Regions from separate parts of the Homo sapiens genome. Here region 1 is linked to region 2. The links come from fine-mapping of genetic effects on gene expression. Tissue or cell type: blood mononuclear cells. Region 2 holds a variant in brackets; the other region holds the start of a gene. All regions are shown on one strand. Distances are from middle to middle.

Region 1 (10,897 bases), 190 kb after region 2:
TGTGGCCCAGGCTGGAGTGCAATGGTGTGATCTCAGCTCACTGCAACCTCTGCCTCCCAGGTTCAAGCAATTTTCTTGCCTGAGCCTCCCAAGTAACTGGGATTACAGGTGCATGCCACCACGCCCAGCTAATTTTTTTGTATTTTAGTAGAGACGGGGTTTCACAGTGTTGCCCAGGCTGGTCTTGAACTCCTGAGCTCAGGCAATCCACCCGCCTTGGCCTCCCAAAGTCCTAGATTACAGGCATGAGCCACAGCGCCCAGCCGCTTTGTTTTTTTTTAAGAATTTGACAAAATGATATTAAACTTCATTAGAAAATTAAACACATGAGGGCTGGTCACAGTGGCTCACACCTGTAATCCCAGCACTTTGGGAGGCCAAGGCAGACAGATCACTTGAGGTCAGGAGTTTGACCAGCCAGGCCAACATGGTGAAACCTCGTCTCTACTAAAAACAGAAAACTTAGCCGGGTGTGGTGCAGGTGCCTGTAATCCCAGCTACTCAGGAGGCTGAGGCAGGAGAATAACATAAACCTGGGAGGCGTAGGTTGCAGACAGCTGAGATCACGCCACTGCACTCCACCTTGGGCAATGGAGTGAAACTCAGTCTCAAAAAAAAAAAAAAAGAAACAGAAAAAGAAAAACACATAACATGAAAATTTTAAAAAAGAATAATTAGTGAACATAATTTGACCAGACACTAAAACATGTTATACTGCTAGAGTAATTAAAACATTATGCCACAGGGGTAGAAATAAGTAGTCAGATCGTTAGACTAGAAACCAAAAGTAGACTCAAATACACAAAGAAATAGGGTTTATGATAAAAATCACATTACAAATCAATAGGCAAAAGATGGACTAAATAATACTGTTCAATAAATTATGCTGGCTTAACTTGCTGGCTGTTCAGAAAAAAAGTTAAGCCAGATTGCTACCTCATTCCTTTCTCCAAAATAGAGTATGGTGGCTCAAAATTTTTTAAAAAAATATAGCTAAATACATTATAGTCTTGGTGTAGGCAAGAAATATTTTCAAGTAGAATAGAAAACTCACAAGCCCTAAGAAAAAAATTGATAAACATAATTGCATACAAGTAAAAAGGTCTCTACAACCAAAAGAATTGTTGTAAGTACTAACATTTTTCCAAAAAATAAATAGAAAAGAAGGTTTGTATCAGGAGCTAATTTTCTATCAAGAGTATATACAATAAAAAAGAAAAAGACTCAAAAAATTTAAATGTATAAAAGATGCTAAATCTCACTAGTAAATTTTAAACGGCAAATCAAACTAATGAGATACCATTTGTCTCCTATCACACTGTCAAGATTTTTAGAAGTTTGATAATAGTGTTAAGAGAAATAAGCACTCTGAGACAACATGAGCGAAAGCGTAAACAATCTTTGTGAGGAATTATTAGTCAAAATCTACCAAATGCCCATTCCCTTTGTCTCTGTAATTCTACTGGTAGGCATTTACTTTACATATATAATCAAAAAAAGCACACTTAGATTTATATTAACAGAACATAAAAGAAAAACCATCATCTCGATCGATGCAGAAAAAGCATTCACAAAAAATTCAACATTTATTCAAAATTTAAAAACAACAACAAAAATCTCTCAACAGACTAGAAAGTGAAAGGAACTTCTTCATCTGATACAGGAATCTAGGAAAAACCTGAAGTTAACACCACACTTAATGGTGAAAAACCGAATGCTTTCACCTTAAGATCAGAAGCCAAGGATGTCTGCTCTCATCATTTATATTGAATACTGTGGTGAAGCCAGAATAATAAGTCAAGAAAAAGAAAATTTAAAAATCCAGATTAGAAGGGAAGAAGTAAAATGGGCTTAATTTGAAGATTACATGATTATCTATTTAAAAAACTGATGGAATTTATAAAAACATTACTAGAACTAATTAGTGAGTTTATCAGAATTACAGGATACAAACAAGGTCAATATTTTAAATTCAATTATATTTCTACATACTAGAAAGGAAAACTTTTCAACAGTGCTAAAACAATTGTAGAGCAATATGCAAAAAGAAAAAAAGAATCTTTATCCTTACACCACATATAAAAATTAACTTTAATCATTAAACAGATGTAAGAGCTAAAACTCTATTAAACTTGAAGTAGATAGACATACAAGATTGTTCACTATAGTATTATTTTCAGTAGAAAACCAGATACAACCTAGAGGCCCATCATCATGGAGAGATTATCTAATAAATCATAATAGTTACATAAAATTAAATACAATGTAGCCACAGGTAACCACCAAAAAGAAAAAAGGTAAATTTTCTGCCAATTAATATGGAAAGAATGCCAAATATACAATTAAGATTTGTTTTAAAAGTGTTGAATAGTGTATAGAGAGGACAATTTTTGTGTAAATACAAAGAATATTTGCATTTCTAGTCATTTTATGTGTATATTTGTGTGTATGTCTCTATGTATGTGTATATCCTTATATACATTTTTCCAGAAGGCTACACAGGAAACTCTTAAACTTTAGGGAGAGGTGGTAAAAATCAGAGAGTTTGGAAAAGAGAGAAATTTATATGCTTTTTAAAATTATTACACATTTTTAGTCATGTTTTTTGCTAGTGCATATGTTATTCTACTTTTTAAAATAAATATTTTTTAAAAAAACATATAAGAGATCTCTACAGAGGAGACTATTATGACCCAAATGTGTGCTGAAGTCAGAGGATAGCAGAAACCATATGAAACAGAGGCTCATCCTGAGAAGAAAAAGAAAACAGAGAAATAAGAAACTGAAAGGACCATGCTTGAGAGAGTGAGACAAAGAGGATTAGTGAGTGGGTTCACTGTGAATTCTACATCTTGGCCCTCTGAGGCCTGCTAAGCTTTGCTGTCTGTCCTTGTAACCCATGAAATTTCCTACTGCATTCTTCCAAGCAGCCCCTCTTTTCATGAGCTGATTTGAGTTTCTCGTGAGCTAGTTTTAGTTCCTTAACAACCCCAAATTGGTCTAGTCTGATCCCTTGTTGAATACCCTGAATTAGTCCCTAACGGAGGTACAGCCTTACCTTGTTGAAAGTAAAGCACTCTGCAGCATGCACCCTGTGAATGTCTGCAGTTAGTCAAGCCTAGCGAGCATGATTTAAATAGAAACTTGCCCAGCAACATTTTATACTCATTAGAAAATTCATGATGAAGATTTCCATTGCTCAGTATGCTATTCAGAATATTTTTTCTAGATGTTATAGTATGGTATATATGAATCACAAATCATAGAATGCTTTCAAATCTAGAGAATAGATTTTAGAAAGAAGAAATCGGAAACCTGAACTGTGAAATGTCAGAGGAAATCTGTACAAATATTAAATATAACACCCAGAGATACACAGAATAAGGAAACACATACCATACAAGCGTGAGTAAATTAGAGAATAATTCCAAACCAATACATAAGCAAGTGCATAATAGTTGTGTTAGTCCATTTTCTGCTGCTGTAACAGAATACCACAGACTGCATCATTTATAAACAATAGAAGTTTATTTGGCTCATGGTTCTGGAGGCTGGGAAGTCCAAGATCAAGGGGCCACATCTGGTGAGGGCCTTCTTGCTGCATCATAACATGGTGGAAGGTCTCACATAGTGAGACAGGGCAAGAGAGTGAGAGCTCAAGAGAGAGAAAAAGGAGACTGAACCTATCCTTTTACTAGGAGCCGTCTCCCACAATAACAGCATTAATCCATTCATAAGGGCAGAGCCCTCATGACCTAGTCACCTCTTAAAGGTCCCATTTCTTCTCACAATGGCAATTAAATTTCAACATGATCTTTGGAGGGGACATTCAAACCATAACCATGGTAAAGACGTAAGAGTAGGAACTGGCTTCTTCACAAACCACCTATCTGGATGCTGCTAGATAGGGCCTGTTCAAGTATAGCTCAAATGTCTTCTCTTCTAGGAGGCCTTTCCTAATTTTCCCACTAGAACTGACCTTTATGGTTCCACTGATTATGTACTCTTTTCCTTTCTTTAAATTTTATTTTATTTTAAGTTCCAGGTTACATGTGCAGGACGTGCAGGTTTGTTACACAGATAAACATGTGCTATGGTGGGTTGGCTGCACCTATTAAGCCCCCCATGCATTAGCTATTTATCCTGATGCTCCAGGGGAGACACTCAGGACTGGCATTTGACAGAGCTTGGTAGAGGAATCCAATGATCTCTAGGTTGATCTCTAAGTTCCATCTCTAATGTTCTATGGATTTTAAACCTTGAATATACAAAATTACTGAGAGGAAGAAAAGAATCATGGCATAATGGAATTTATCTACTATTGTTTACATTGTCATGTTACCAAATTAACAAATCTGTCATGATATTGCAGTCACTAAGGAACAATACATACCCACAGCTCTTACAAATGATTAACTAAATGATCAGATTTTTCATTTCCCCACCAAAGCATGAGGAAATTTATCTTAGCTTTAGCTGCCTGAAACCTCTCTTGGGTGAAAAACATTAAAAACATCTGCAAATTACTGATGACTAATGCCCTTCAATTTGGCCTCAAGCTGAGAAATTCTGTGCAGAAATAAAGTGGTTTATAATCCCACAGGTCCATTCTATTATAAACTGCAGGTGGCAAATCAAGTGACTATGAACTATGCTGTGTGTATGTGTGTGTGTGTGTGTGTGTGTGTGTGGTGTGTGTCTGTGTAAAAAGCAATACTCAAGAGGGTGTTTATCCTACTCCTTCAAGAGAAATTTAACCACCCAGACAAAAGGCAAATGCTAACTGAGAGGACCCAGGAATCTGGGTGATGTCAGACAGAGGCCCAAAGCCAGAGTGGCTGTCATCCCCCTCCACTGCCCACCAGCCAGGGCAGCTGCATCTGCCCTTTGCAGAAAAACAATCTAAAGCAAGCACAGAAGAAAGCTGGAAGGAAAATAACTGCAACTCACATCGATGACCTATTTTCTGAATCCGGCTTATGAGAGATTGGATTCTCATTCCTCCAAAAACCAGCAGAACACTTCAGGCCCAGAAAATGGTGTCTTTGATGACTAGAATGTATGACACATCATTACCAAAGGACTTTCGATCTAGGTTCCAAGAGGTGTTAGCCTCAGATGACTATTGTGGGAGGAGCTGATAAATCCACCAAATCCTTGGTGACTTTGCTTCACTATTAGGCAAGATTAAGATGATGCTAATTGGTAGTGAGCCTGATCTATTTAGTGTCTCCTACCAGGACACAGAGCAGAATCAAAACCATTCTCACAGATCCTGTTTGCATGTCATTTAACAGTTCCAATGTGATATTCCCCCAACCTTTTAAAGTTCCTTCATTCCAGATTAAATTCCTTCATTCCAAATGCTGCACAATCAAAACTAATCATCTTTTTGTGAGCAAAGGGCATAATCAAAGCATGTAGTCAGGGTCACTTTTCTGAACTGCAGATAAACCCAGGGGAAACACCATGAGTTTCTGATCTGAATTACCAAGCAATGAAACAGTGACTATTCAACAGTGACTATTCATTCAGTAGCATGCCCTGGGCTATATACAGAACAGTAGGTTAAGAGGAGGCAGGGGGTGGGGGGGTGGTGCTGGGCATGGTGGATCACGCCTGTAATCCCAGTACTTTGGGAGGCCAAGGCTCGTGGATCACCTGAGGTCAGGAGTTCGAGACCAGCCTGGCCAACATGGGGAAACCCCATCTCTACTAAAAATACAAAAATTAGCAGGGTATGGTGGTGTGCGCCTGTAATCCCAGCTACCAGGGATGCTGAGGCAGGAGAATTGTTTGAACCTGGGAAACGGAGGTTGCAGTGAGTAGAGATTCTGCCACTGCACTCCAGGCTGGGCAACAAAGTAAGACTCCATCTCAAAAAAAAAAAAAAAAAAAAAAAAGGGAGAGAGGGGAAGTGAGAAACAGGAGGGTAGGGTCCCCAGAAAGCTTCTTTTCTGGCCAGCTAACATGACACATAGGCCCATGTGAAATAGTTGAAGACTGTGCAATAACACTGGATAAGCTATATCCATCAATTCTGAGGAGGAGTCAGTTCAACCCAGGACCAAGACTTGAGTGGGAATGCTTCCTGGAGCAGATAAATCTAGGTACAGTTTTGAATGAAGAAGTGAAAAGGATTAGTGTAGATGAGGCAGGAGAGAAACCCAGAGCCAAGAAACAGCACACAGAGAATGCAAATATGAAGAAGGTGATTTAAAGGACAGCGATCTTACTCCCGCTAGTCAATAATGGCCTTTGTGTTTCCATTTACTGTCATAAGAATCTTAAGAATGGGGATAATGTGTTCTATCTTCCTATATTTCCTACAGTATTTGCACATAATAATTGCTCATATTATAGCTAGTAGAATCATGGATTCCTACAGTTGGACTGAACTTATCATCCCATCTGCTTGCAGAATAAATTAATAAATAAATGAACAGGTTATTAAAATTAACAGGTTGTTAAAAAGATCAGCCTGGTTCCAGTAGAAGAATTATAAAAATAATCAAGAGATGAAGTTGAATTTGTATACAAGAGTCAGTTGAAGGCAGAGCTTTCAGGCAGCCTGGGGGGCTGGAATTTTTCCTCAAAGGTGAGAGGGTGCCACACCAGGCTTTTAAACAGTAGAGTAACATAGGAAATTTTCTTTGAGAAAGAGTGTCTTGGCAGATTTTTGCAGGAAAAGGCAAATCAGAAGGCCAGCAGGATTCCATTGCAACAAGGAGTTAAAGGCTATACAGTCTGGAAGGTGACCGACAGCCTGCCCAGGCCCAAGGGAAAAAAAATACCAGATGCCCCAGCAGAGGAGGACTGGCTAGACTGTCTTCACCAGGGATTTGCCCGAGGCCCTTTCAGCCACTGGGCCCCAGTAATTTATCCTAATTTCCTTCCCCACAGCCCCGCCTCTCCACCTCAACCCTGATAGTACTTATTAGCTCAAAATGGACCATCTGAAGGAAGGGACAACCTCTTGCGAACGAACCGAGGGCCTGGTCTGCTCCAAATAAGTGTTTCCTCTAAGAAAGAAATTATAATGCATTCCTAGTGTGAGTGCAGCAGCAATAGCCTGACAGCCATTTGCATAATTTCTCTTCTGTAACAGACTTCAAAAATAACAATAGGCGAACTAGATAGAATCTATTAATTTTAAATTTGCTTGAGCTGCTATCTTTAATGAAGCTAAAGTACCATGAAGATTTTAAATCTATTAATTATGTGGTGTATTATTTGTTCTCTCCAATGAGACATTTTGGGGAATGGACATTTAATTTGTGTTGCTATAGAATCACCACCTTATTCTGGGATGTCCACTTGGTTTGAATGTACTGATAAGGTTGGAAGGTAGCGTGTTTAGAAAGTTCATCCAAGAGTAGCAGAAAAATGCTAATTAATGTCAAGAATAAAATATACGCACACACATCAAGTCAGGAATGACTCAGGAACGCAGAAGTGACCAGCCTGGGCACCATAGCAAAACTCTGTCTCTACAAAAAATAAATAAATTAGCAGGGCATGTTGGCACATGCCTGTAGTCCCAGCTACTTGGGAGGCTGAGGTGGGAGGATCATTTGGGCCCTGGAGTTCAAGTCTGCAGTGAGCTATGATCACACCACTGCACTCTCACCTGGGGGACAAAGTGAGACCCCACCTCAACAATAAAAATGTAAGAACCCGGAAGCAAAAGAATCTCATAGATGACTTTCGCAAGTGCTAAAACCACTACACAGCAACAGGAGGACAGGAACCATGCCTATCAGGTCCACCATTATATCTCCCATGCCTAACATAGGGCCTGGCATGTGGCTATATAATGTTGAAAGAAATGACCTACTGGATGGATGAATGAATGGGATTTCTTTACATAACAAAGGCAATTAAAATACCTAAGAAATATATGCATAAGATTTATTTTTCCAAAGAACTAAAAGAGCAATAATTTCATGATCATTTTCATTCATAAGCATACATGCCCACATGTGTGCACGGGCAAACACGCACACCCTTCAAGTAAAAACACCTTAAGAAGGAACTACATTGAAAAGAAAGGACTTTAAGTCTTAAATTATTTATTATAGCAGAAACATTTCAAACTAGCAAAGCATTTAATAACACTGTAAAATGAATTACCACAAGTAAACCTCTTAGTTTTCTTCATCCATTTATGGAGTGCCAGACACTACACTTGATGGCTGACAAATTGCAAAGAAGGAAAAAAAGAAAATACCTAACTTTTGAGTGTCTTCTGGATAATTTTTCCAAAGAACATCCTACTAAGTTATACTCTAAACAGGCCAGACGCGGTGGCTCATGCCTGTAATCCCAGCACTTTGGGAGGCCCAGGTGAGTGAATCGCCTAAGGTCAGGAGTTGGAGACCAGCCTGACCAATATGGTGAAACCCCATCTCTACTAAAAATACAAAAATTAGCTGGGCGTGGTGGCGGGCGCCTGTAAGCCCAGCTACTCAGGAGGCAGAGGCAGGAGAATCGCTTGAACACAGAAGGTAGAGGTTGCAGTGAGCTGAGATGGTGCCCACTGCACTCCAACCTGGGTGACAGAGCAGGACTCCGTCTCAAAAAAAAAAAAAAAAAAAAAGTTTTACTCTAAACAGATGAATTTTTAGCAGCACCAAATAATCCATTTTCTGCTCCATTTTAATATCCACATTTTCATTTCATGGGTTTTATCCCTCAATTCCAAATGACATTCTAAGTCAAATAAGAACTTAACCAAAGTCATCAGCTAATACTTAAAAAACAAATAAATCCTAATGGTAAAAGGAGAATCTCTGGGTATTAAGTCTGCCCTGAAAAACAGGGCAAACAATGTGTCCAGTTTCAGATTTTAAAAATTTGTGGATCTGGAGTTCGCCTGCTTTATCACACACACACACTGGGCACACACAGAGATCACCTGTGTGTGATCTGCTTTATCACACACACACACACACACACACACACACACACGGTACACACAGAGATCCCTGGGGATTGTTCCTGCACTTCCATACTTCTCTCTCCATAAAGCTCAATCTTCCTTCATCCTGAATACGGTGAAACTACTATGATCTTCCATACTACTTTCCTAATCATATTTTGGAAAATGTCATGTGGAAATCTTTTTGGTATTAGTATTTTCAAATCAATCCTTCCAACATACCCTGTAATCAAAGCACAGTGTGATTCATTCTGTCAACATCCAGTGGCTTTGGGAGGCCAAGGTGGGAGGATTGCTTGAGCCCAGGAGTTCAAGACCAGCCTGGGCAATATAGTGAGAACCCATCTCTACAAAACTAAAAGATTAAAAAAATTATCCAGGCATGATGGTGTGCAACTGTAGTCCCAGCGACTTGGGAGGCTGAAGTGGAAGGATGGCTTGAGTCCAGGAGTTCGAGCATGCAGTGAGCTATGATCTTGCCACTGCACTCCAGCCTGGACAACAGAGTGAGATACTGTTTCTACAAAAAACAAACAAAAACATTCCATGGTGCCTATGGTGTGGCAGGTCCTGGTGACATAAAGTAGCCTCCTTATCCCTATGGGGCTCAGAGCATGAGTGTTACAGAAGGGAAGTGCAAGGTGCTATAGGAGCCCATGACAAAGGAAATCAGGCCTCTGAGGTGATTCTCCAACTTGGTTGCACATTGGAATCACCTGAAGAGATTTACAAATATGGATTCCTGGTCCCACCTCTCCCTGGAAATTCTGGAGTATGGCTCTGAGCACCAGCAGTTTTTAAGCTTCCCAAAGAGGCAAAAAAGTTTGTGAATCATTGCTCTAGGGGGGTGGTTCTCGAACTTTTGTATTCATCAGAATCTTCTGGAGGGCTTGGTAAAACAGACTGCTGGACTCCACATCCAGAGTTTCTGACCCTGGTGGTGGAGAAGAGCCACAGAATATGCATCTCTAACAAGTTCCCAGGTGATGCTGGACCACCCTTTGAGAAACACTGCTTCAGAAAGCCAGCTGAGGAAGTGAGCTGAAGGGACAGGGGACGGGGGAATGTTTTCGGCAGAGGGAAGCACCGTGTGAAGGCCCAAAGTGGAGATAGCACCGCGGCAAGCAAATATTCCTGGAACCAAGAGATCTGAGGCATGGCCAGAGGTTAGGGAGCAAGGAGGATCATGCAGGGTAAGGCCAGTGATAGGTGGACACAAATCCTGGTCCTGCCATCTATGATTATGACTGAGAAAAAAAATGACTCCACAAAGCAAAAGAGGCTGCTCCTCTTCACAAGAATTGGCCACAGTAGTATTGTCCAATCAGTAGGGTTCTTAACTCTCAGATTATGAAAAATCCAGGCTGGCTTATTATTAAAAAGTAATAACACTCTTTGCAGGGTTAACATTTTATAGCTTTCATGACACTTTTGCAAGTGTTATCTCATCCAATTCTTAAAGAAATCCTGGAATGCAAGAAGGTCTGGCGCTCCTGCCTTCATTTTGCCAGGTCTAGAACCCCATTATCAGACTCCTGTTCTGGTCATCTTCTACTATAGCTCGTTACCCTCCAGCGTTTACTTCTACCCACAAATGGAAAAGTCCAGTCCTCTAGAAAATTCTTGTCCAAGTGCTGAGAAAAATATAGGAGAAACCAGCTCTCCACATAGGTGGTAACATACACACCTGCCCATAGCATTTACGCATGTGTCACCAGAGACTGTTCCAGAAGGCCCTGGCTATGTTTAGACAACTATTTGACTCTCCAGAAATTCAATCCAAAAGCCAGGCATGGTGGCTTATGCCTGTAATCCCAGTACCTTGGGAGGCCAAGAGAGGAGGATTGCTTAATGTCAGGAGTTCAAGACCAGCCTAAGCAACATAGGGAGAACTACCCTGCCAATCTCTACAAATTTAAAAATTAGCTCATGTGGTGGCATATGCTTGTAGTCCCA
Region 2 (10,897 bases):
GGTGTTTCACACAATGTCAGCCATGGTTGCTTTCATACGGTTACCTCTATTGGTAAAAAAAAAAAAAAAAAATCCAAATTTCTGTTAAATGTAAATATATATATTTGTTGATTTTTTAACTAAAGCTAACTGAACACCAGGGCAGAGTAAGATTTCAGCCACTTGAGAGAAATTGGCCATAAGAGCACAAATGGGCAGTTTGTTTCTGAAGTTCTCCTGCTCTCATCCACTGGGCATGGAGTACTTAATGTCATGTAAATAAAACTCTTAAAAATGCAGGAATGTAATAACTACCAGTAATAATGCTGGGCAAATCAAAACACATGACATGACATTTTTATAAACAACCACAGGGAGAAAGAAGAAAGAGAGTACAGTACCTGGTTTTAGCAACAGGATTTTGATGCTTCTGGTCTTGGAGAACCTTGGCCAGCTGTTTTTGCAGAAACAGAACTTTTCCATGTACTCCTTTAATAAATGGGTGGTCAAGGAGATGTGTGACGGAAGGTCGCCTTTCAAAATCCTTAATAAGACACCTGTTTGCAAAAACCAACAAACAATCCAAAGTACAATCTTAGACACCCTGTTCCCCTATGAATATGGGAGATGGAGAGAAGGTAAAAGCTCATTTATAAAACCTGATCATTGGTTAATGATACACAGCTCTCTCTTTAATTAATATGTACCAGAAAACAGAAAAATAGTAATTCTCTATTAGTTGAATTAATTAAAACATCAGAAATCTGTCTTCGTTTGTTTTAAGCAAAGTTGAAAACACAATTTGTACCATCAACTTGAAGTACTCAAAACACTAAAAATATAGACTGCTCAATTTTCTATCCGCATTTTCATTAGAGAAAAATATTTTCAGTGGAGTCAAGTTGATTTGTATGTATACTTTCTTTTAGAAATACGTAGAATTAAATACTATCACCTCAATTAAATCCTAATATATGAAATGCCCCTTGTTTACCGGCAGGGAAAAGGCATCTAGGTGTTAAAAGGAAAAAAACTAATCATAAAGAAACCTTCACAGAAACGCTGGCGCTTGATTTCTAATGTCTTCTGAAGAACCAGAAAAACCACAGAACAGGAAGTGAGTACAATATAATTCAGATGAATTGGAATAGAATTATACAAACAGGGAACAAAAAGTCCATTCGAAATGATAAAAATTGGGTTGCATTTAAACTCTTCTGTGGTTAATTGGTTAAAATCATACCGGCATAACTACTTTCTGTTTTAGATTCAAAATCCTTTTCAAAGCAATGATTCAGTACATTTTGCTGCACCTTCTGTGTTATTCAAGATGATTTGGATACAGGGAAATTTCTAGTGAAATTGAATCTGACGAATATCCCTCCAACTGCCATCACATTTCTATTCTGCGTACCTGCCCTTGGCGAGAGGAAGAAATTTTAACATCTACCCTTTTAAGCCACTTGTCCTTAAGCCCACATTGGAGGCTTAGGATAAATGGATGCCATTCTGCCCAATCCATGAAATAAACGTCTTTAGTTTTCTCAACAGTGGAATGCCAGCAGCATCTAACATACAACGTATTTTTAATGAAATTCACTGACAAATGTTAAAAAACTTCAGCCTCACCTTGAACATCTTTTCAAAACACTTAAGCAGAGTTCTTGAAACAATCCTCAAAAGTTAAATTTACAAAAAAGCTTTGGTTTCTGCAGTTTTCAGTTCAAAACACTTTCATATCCCTTACCTTCTAGTCCTGAAAAGATATTCGGTAAATCTCCCAGTTACTCCATTTTATAATTGATTCAGGGGATTCCCTATCTATTGGAACTGGAGCTTTCAGCCAGAAAAGCCAACGGAACCTAAATTATCTCCATTCAGCTGCTTGCAGGACTATAAATACCACCTCTGCCTTGCCATGGGAAGAAATACATCATTTGACTTTTATAGGTTCAGGGCTTTTTGTATAATCTATTATTTTTCTGTGAAAAATAAAAAATCAGTGCATATGCTTTAAGAAGACTGTGTTCATGTCTTTACATCAGCAATCTTCCCTTGATTCCTTGTATATTCATCTCTATATGTAACTATCAAAGTTAATATGCTTAGATATTATGCAAAAATGCTAATAACCATGTTTCCTGAAAAAAGAGGGAACCCAAGAGGTAGTTATACTGTCAGTAACATAGGTGTATGGCCCAGTCCTCCTAGCATTAGGAATAGTGTATAAAAACTCCTAAGATAAACATAGCCCCTATGTCCTCTGAGAGTTCCTACTGAAGATGCACCCGGTAGTTGTGCACACCCCCAGGAACCTCAGAGGGAACGGGTAGGATGGGAGTCCAGGAACTGCTGGATCTGAAGCTAAGCCTGCTTACTGATTTCTTAATAAGTCACATTATGTCTGTTTCTCATCACCAAATAGGCATATCAGTATTGAAGTATTTCCCAAACATGGGGAGAGAAATTTCTTGTTTCCTCACATAATATTCATCCCACCCATCCGTCACCCTCCCCACATTTTTGTTTTGGCTTTCTTCCTGTGTTAATTGTTGAAGCGTCATCTGACTACCAGGAAATGCTCATTGAAAAGAAAGAATGAACAAAAGGACCAGGGGTCCCTCAATAGCCTGTTGACTAGTGGCAACACTTCAAATTAGTAAACACAGGGGCAGAGACTGAAGGTGGAAGGAGGCAATTCACAAAAAATTCATAGCATGTGAAGGGGAAAGTGAGCTGGAGCTGCCTCTCTACCTTCCTCCTTAATATAGGTACCTCAGGGCAGTGTTCCAGGTGAGGCCTGAAAACAAGGTCCTTTGGGTACTTCAGTAAGTAAAGCTCCTTGAACAGGGATTGAGAAAGACTAGGAAACCCATACTCCATCCAGCCTTATGAAAAGATGCCTCCACTGGAGTCTAGGGACCACAATTAAAGGTGGTATAGCTTGTTTCACAATGTTAGCATCCACTGGAGAAGCAAGGCTTCCAACACGGTCGCAAGATCATTTGATATGTTAGAGAGGGTCCCTCTCTAGATTATGGAGGAATAAAAGAAATGAATGAATAATGAAGTCAGAGAATTAGACAAAGAAGAAACTAACGAGTAAATCTGTTATTTCTTGAAGATCCAAAAAATGAAGATAGTAGGCATTCTACTTTCTGGAAGCAATGATCAAGAAGATCTGTTGGCCAGGCGTGGTGGCTCATGCCCATAATCCCAACACTTTGGGAGCCCAGATAGGAGGATTTCTTGAGCCCAGGAGTTCAAGAGAAGCCTGAGCAACATAGTGAGACCTCATCTCTACTAAAAATAATTTAAAAATTAGCAGAGCACACCTGTAGTCCCAGCTACTTGGGAGGCTGAGGCAGGAGGATCACTTGAGCCCAGGAGTTTGAGATTGCAGTGAGCTATGATCCCACCACTACACTCCAGTCTGGCAACAGAGTGAGACCCTGTCTCAAAAAAACAAAAACAAAAAACAAACAAAAAAAAGTGCTTTCTTAGTTCTCCAAGTAAGAAAGAAAGACTGAAGTGGGTTGAATGTCTGCGTGATAAACCCCTATTAACTTCAGTAGGGATGGCACCAAGTTCAAGAGGCTGAAGGAGAGACCCAGAGCCAACAAATGAGATATAGGGTTTTATTAGGAGAAACTTACATACAGGGATGATGCAGTAGCCATGTGCTGGACAGAAGAACCACCACTGCATGCAAAAAGCATGCAGTTTATATAGCATTTTCACTTCACTCCCTCCTCCTAACAACCTCCACCTGGCAACCTTCATTTAACGCAAAACAAAGAGCCTCACTCCCCTGTATGCTGATGTTCCACAGGAAGGGCCCAGAGCTCAGATGTTCCTCACAGACAAGGAATTTATCTCTGGGTTGGGCACGCTCTGAACTCCAAACACATATTCAGGTGCAACTGCCATACAGGATCATCCTCAGGGTATGCTCAAGTTAAATTATTGCTGTCGGGTGTGTCTACCATATACCATCATACCACAGGATCAGCACAACTGAACCTGAGTGTAAAGAGGAAGAAGGCTAAGCAGAGTTGTGACTCTCCAACTGCATTGGAGGATTTTTAGGGAAAGGGCATGAAGAACTTGAAGGTATAGCTTTATTCTAAAATACTCCTCTCTATATTTTTTTCTCATGGGGAGCAAAGAGCCAGTCTGAAATGGAACTATTATTTTACAGATAAATAGAGGAAAGTTATGCCTTAAGAGCAGATAGAAAGTCCTGCGTTACTGGATATGAGGGCATAGCATCATATCGTTTACTCAGCAAACATTTATTACTCAGCACTAGAACTAGCCACAATACATAAATTAATTAAAAGCTATGACCCTTTTCCTCAAGGATCTACAATCTAATTGGAAAGACAGAAGGACAAGAGAAGCACAAGAAACAGCAAAAGCCATATGTTTGCTTCTATCTTTAGGATAAGAAATAATAGCACAAAAGCATAGGGTTTCAGAGCCACAGGGACTGAGATTTTCGATTCTAGCCCCTCTTTTAAGAGGTGAGGAAATGGGATCAAGTCCTGGCAATGATGAGGTCAATTCCTCAACTCCCACAGGAGGACCCTTCCTGCTTTGTTCCGTGTTGTTAAAAATGACAAAGGTACAACGTACGAAACAATACTTCGCGGCCAGAGGGAAGAACTGTAGTCAGGGAAGACTTCCTGGAGCTGGTAAGAATTGAGCTAGGTAAGTCTTGGGGGAAGTTTTGGAACTAAATTGAACTAAACTGGGGGAGTAAAGGCAGAAGTCATACTGGGGAGCCAGACCGGCAATGCAAGAAGCAGACTAGACAAGCTGCAAAGCCAGTAAGTCAGGAGGCCACCAGAACACTGACCTTCACCTCCTAAGCTGCTTCTTTTGAATGCCTAACAACAGTTACTGCCTTTAGTCCCTTTACCAACTTTAACTAAGGTATAATTGTTGTTGCTTAAGACTTTGTAGTTTGGTGCCCAGAATTCTTACTGTTTAAGTTTGTCGGCTTGTCATTTCTATCCCTGGTCAGCAGAGATTTAGTGGATGAAGATGAAACTGACAGCTGGGATTCCTAAAACTCCTGATAGCCTCCATGTCCTTTTATAAAGCAAGATAGAATCCTTTAACCTGATTTGGAGAACAAACAAGTAGAACTAAAGGAGTTCTAAGAAACGTATTCATTTCAGGTATTGCTTATTAAACCAGGAATTGCAAATTCCAAAAGAAGACTATCTTCCCCCAGCCAGGGACTGAGCAGTTTTTACAAAAGGATGCATAAAATGTTAAACTCTGTATGGGATTGGGGGCCAGCCAACATGAGGTGAATTAGGGGAAGCACTAGACACATAAAGCATTCCATCAAAAAAAGAAGCTAGTTTCCTAGTCAAAAGAGTTTGGAAAACATTGGTGATTCTCTAAACCAAGTAAGTTTGGAGTTTTGTAATGCACACAAGCCTATTAAAGGTTCTTACAAGAGCTAGGGTTAAAAAAAAGTTTAATTCTATTTGAGCCCACGTTTCCAAGCTTACTTAGCCACAGAGACCTTTTTGTTTGTTTGTTTGGGCCCCACAAATGATATCCTTGGAAGTTCTGTTGTAAGCAATTAGTCGCATGATTTTAGAATGGACACCAGAGTCCTCAACTCAGTGGACTGAGGGGACACTGTAAGAACTCTTAATAATTGCCACATCTCAGACACTCTGGAGGGCTATTGTTTCTGCAAAAGACAGTGTTTCAACCTGGGGAGATATTTTCCTGAGCTCAGTTCTTTCCAGAGTCCTTTATTCTAGAAAACAAGTAGCAAGGACTAGATTTAGATACACTACTTTTCCCCAAATCATAAGTAATTCTTTCTTTCATTCATTCCTGGATTTTTTAATCTTTTTTAAAAAATTAGGATTTAGATATGCTTTCTCTGTGCTAACAGACAAAACAACAGAATAACAATTTATTTATACCATGAGATATATGCAAGAGACTCTGGAAATAAGGCCATGATGGGTGGTTTTGAATATGATAGAAAAGTCCACCAGAAGATAAAGGAAGCAAATTTCAGCCTTGAAGGAAATCAATCCACTATCTAATTTGAAATTCTAGTACCTTCCATCATGCTTTCTTGGCTGAAGATTAATTCTCAGAATCTATTAGTGTCACCACATTAAACACAGGTTGTTGCAGCCATTTGCAGCAATCTCCCAGTCTGGCTTCTGCCAAAAACAGGCAAAAACGGGACATTTCTTAGCAAGAAACAAGGTCGGGCTCTCAAGCTGGTGGTGTCTGTGCACTCTCTGCTCCAAGACAATAATGCTGTCGTGACACAGCTACTCTGTGCCTGTAAACTGCCATTTCATAACCAAAAAAC[C/T]GGATGCCTGCAAGGGGGAGCTATTTGTCAAGAGCCTCTGACTGTTGTTTACCAATGAATAAAACACTTGATATAGAGCAGCTGAAAAGGCAAAAACTAAAAATACTAGTAAACTGGGTAAGAAAAGCATGAGGGTGAGCAATGTATTCCATACATTGGGGCAAAACTAGATCAAAACTCAGGATTTATGACTCTTCTCATTTCTTTATAAATATTCTGTCTTTTATACTTCCTGCTATTTTCTTGCAGGCCTGCTACTTGAATTGTTATGTGTTCCCATTGCTACAGAAGATCTAAACATTTTGGATCTGAGCAAGCATTTCCCTGCCGTGTGATTCACTGTGCTGCCCTGTGGTTGCTATCATCGTCAAACAGAAGGCTGACTGACAAAGAGGCCTCTAAATCAAGGGGAGAAAATCCTCCAGAGGATACACTAATTATAGGTTAAATATCAGAGCACACAGTATTCTGCCTTGGAAGAAAATTTCCATTCTGCAAGACAAGACTATGACAAACAGGCATTTTCTCAAAATGACTAATGCCTCAAAAGAAGGCAGAATGAGAAACTTGATGCTGTGTATGGTATTTCTGTGAAACATCACCCCCCTGTTTGGTGGAATATTTAACTGCATTTCAGTTTTCCTGAAGTCTGAATATCACATTTGATGCTGTTGCAAAGTCTCACTGGTGAGAACTGAAATTGCATGCTAACTTCACATTTGGGGTGGGGAAGTGGGGTCCTCCCCTGAAACAGGTAAATGAGAACTGGGAGTGCATTACTCAGTTAGGCAGGTCTATGGTTATCAATCAGAGGAGAATAGTCAGTATTTGCTAAAAGACAAAAATCCCCAAGAAGGTAGGATGGAGAGCTTTTGAACAGGAAGCTGAGTCTCCCTTTGAAATGAGTAACGGGAATAGAGTCTGTGTAAAAAGCAAGAGACCACATGGCTACTGGACGACAGGGCAGCTGCCATCTTGCCAGAGATCCTGGGGCAAGGTTGGAAAGATAAACAAGTGAGCCTGATCTTTAGACAAAGCTGTCAGCACCAAAGGTCCACAGTAAGCTCAAGTGAAGGTAGGACGGAAATGGAAAGGGAAGAACATTGCATTTCCTGAAGCCTGACACTGGGCAGGAAACTTGGGGATAAAGAACATCTACTTTTCTCACCCAGAGAAGACTCAAAGAAAGTAAAGAAGGTGACAAAAGAAAACATATAGGGTGGTGGTTTGAAGCCAAAATATCACATCTCTGAGCAAATGGGACAGAATCTACCTCTAGAGTTAAGACGTGTGCACCAGTGTGGCTGGAGAAAGTCCCTATGCAAAAACAAGGCCCAGGATCAGAGACCCCCAGTAAGGCAGAGAGCTGCAATATGTAACCCTGTAATGCCCCAGGGTTGCAGCCTCAGTGAAACCTGTCAACCAGGAACCTCTTTACCCTCTATCTCTAAGCCCTTGGTCAATATGAAATAGTTTGAAAAGCCCAGACTAACTGACTATGTTCTTAGGGAAGGAGATGTGGTAACAAAAATTCTAGATCCTCAAGCCCTGCTTGTCTGGGGACAAGTGGAGAGCCACAGTGAGGAGGAACAGAGGAAAGGAGACTATACTATAGACAAAAGGCAGAATCAGTCTGGGAGGAGGAAAAAGAGAGAGAGATGTAAAAGTGCTAAACAAATGACATGAAGTTAGAAGGGCCAAGTGAACCAGGCCAGAGCCAAGTAGCAGGTCAAGATGGGGCACAGATTCAAGGTAAAGAGAGGTATCTCCAAGAAAAAGTCACTGAAGGCATACTGACCGAGTTGGCTGTTTTATTCTTGTTCTTGGCACCTCCTTCTTATGTTTAAGCTACGCTTTCAAACTGTCCTACGGCATTTGACAAAGAATGGGGATAAGGTTGCCCTCTGCTGGACACAGTGGCAGCCAAGAAGATGTCAATTTTGTGTCCGAGAATTAAGGCAGTCTTAAGGATTGTTAACTGGTGGCCCCAAGTCATCACCTTCTCCCTCCTCCTGGCTTTCTTTTTTCTTTGGTTGAGTTTTTATAAAAAGCACCTTGCAATTAACCAGATATTTCTCCAGGCAACTCCACCCATGTGACACAGTCAGGGCACAGATAAACACAGCCCCAGCAACTAGCTTATCAGATTGTTAGTCTATGTTCAAATGCCACCCTTTAGTTCAAAGGGCTGGAGAAGGTGTGGTCCCTGGGAGATCACACCTTAAATGGTTAGAAAGGTTATTGTGGGGAATAAATGAGTTAATTCATGTCTAGTATTTGGTATATAGCGAACAATTGATAAATGTCAGCTCCCTGGGCCAGACACTGTACTAGTTGCTGGGTATACAGTCAGTCAGTCCATTGGAGGAAGATAGCTGTGGTACACCTATTGATAATTAGCAGTATGAGTGCTACATAAGTGTCTTACTCCATTTTGCACTGCTCTATCAGATGACCTAAGACTGGGTAATTTATAAAGAACAGAAATGTACTTTCTCACAGTTCTGACGGCTGAGAATTCCAAGATCAAGCCTCCAGCAGGTTCAGTTGTCTGGTGAGGGCTGCTCTCTACTTCCAAGATGGCTCCTTCAGAGGAGAGGAATGCTGTGTCTTCACACAGTGGAAGGCCAAAAGGCAAGAAGAGACTAACTGCCTCTCCTTCAAGCCTGTTTATCCAGTACTTAATCCTTAATCCCATTCACCACGGAGAGGCTCTCATGACCTAACGACCTCTTAAAGAACCCACCTCTTAATACTATCACAAAGCCAGCACCTGAATTTTGGAGGAGACACATTCAAACCACAGCAACAAGGAAATGTTAATGTGCAATGGCTCCCTCAGTTAGATTTTAATAATACTGTGCTCATTAGTTAGCTACTTTCTCTCAGTTGATTCCTACCACTGAGGACAAATTTCTGTTTGATAGTAGATGCCCTGATCAGAACTTTCAAAGTTCTGAGGGGAAGGGAATTTCTGGGGTCTGGCAATTCAGCAAAAGCAAAGAGCTTTGGCATTTTCAAGTTCATGCCTTTGGGTAATTTTTTTAATGTCTGGCTCATTTCTTTGATTCGAAAATCAATTTCCATTTTGACAAACAGTCATGGTCTGCTTCTTAGTCCAGGCTTAAATGCCCAGGGACACATGAATTGTATTTCTTCCCATGATCCTACTTGCCACCCTTCCCTGAATTAAATCCACAATTCTCATTTGTATGCATTCTTCTCCCTACAAGGAGAAGGAATAGAGAGTACCCAGCCATCCTCTAACAGAAATGAACAATCTGTTCCACAGTGCATGATCATTACATGCTCAGGACTATACCAGAACTGGGGTTGGGGCTAAGAGAGTGCAAATCAAACAGAAGACATTATATTCATCCACAAGAAACTTATCAGCTTCTGGGGTAATACCAAACTTACACATATGAAAGATTTAGAGAATCAGATGAGATTGATTTCATTGATTCATTCAAAAACTTACTAGGTATTTACTGTGAATGGTGCCACAGCAAATGCCTAGGGAAAACAATGCCTGGAATGAGACATTTGCTTTCATGGGATTTAGAAAGAAGTATTAGAATAGACATGGACATAAATAATAATAATTTAAGGCTGAAAAGTATAAGCACTAGAATAGCGCAGACGAAGTAAATAATTCTAACTAGGAGCAAGAGTTTCACATGAGAGATGATCCTTGGGTCTTAAAGAACAAAAGGGGTATTGACAGAAAATGCAGGCAAGAGGCATTCCAAGCGGAGGGTACAGTAGCCTTTTGAGGAAGTTCATTGGTATAAAATGCAAGGCTCATCTAGGGATATGAGTAGAACAGAACAATGCAGTTATAATAGAGATGGGGTGAGAGTCTGGCTGGAACATCTTTTCAGAACCCAGAAGGTCTTGCTGGTAAGTTTGGGCTTTCTTAGCCACATTAAACTGAGGTTCATGAACAAGGATATAACACAATTAGATATTTGCTTTAGAAAATAAAGTGGCACCACATTAGAGAGTAGATTAGAGGGAAGGAGTGAATTCATTTAGGAAGAATACAGTCTGAATTAATGAAATAGAAAGGGAAAGATGATGATTGTAGCCCTGGAACTTGAAGACAAGTCAAGAGTGTTGAAAGAAAAGAGAAGAGGTCACCAATGGAATCTTAGGCAAACTTAAATTTAATAGATGGGCCTGTAGCTAAATGTTTGTGAACATAAAAATCTTTTATCTTCACTACCCAACTAAAATCTCTCTCAAAGGACCCTAAAGGCCTTTAAGTTGCCGATTCTGTGTTCCCTTTTTAGTTCTCATTGTATTCAACCTCTCTGTTCAAGAGGTCACTAATGACCATCATTACCCTGGTTTCTTGAAACATTCTGTTTCATTGCCTGTAGTGATGCTACATCTCTTAGTTATTCTTTTACTTTTCTGACTACTCTCGCTCATTTATTTTCATTACCAGGTGGAATAAGATGACAAGGGCAGAGGAGATAGGGTATGCAAAGACAAGGAGAAGCGAAAATAGAACTGATAGCTTTTATGTGCACAGGCTTAGAACTTGCTCCT

What was found. PIP is the estimated chance that this variant, and not a neighbour inherited with it, causes the effect.
Region 1: MYO3B starts here. The variant in region 2 is fine-mapped to the expression of MYO3B in blood mononuclear cells (TOPMed, PIP 0.98).

The regions. Positions count from the first base shown.
Region 1 is chr2:170,172,343-170,183,239 of GRCh38, reverse strand. It overlaps MYO3B (myosin IIIB), which reads right to left and starts at 5,093. Exons shown (of 35, transcript NM_138995.5): 1 at 4,951-5,093. The coding sequence starts at 4,952. RefSeq lists an enhancer at 2,682-2,911.
Region 2 is chr2:170,358,861-170,369,757 of GRCh38, reverse strand. MYO3B (myosin IIIB) reads right to left here. Exons shown (of 35, transcript NM_138995.5): 9 at 381-536. Among named protein-coding and RNA genes, the nearest start is that of MYO3B-AS1, 13 kb to the right of the region's middle. RefSeq lists an enhancer at 6,565-6,859. The variant C/T (reference allele first, on the strand shown) is at 6,341.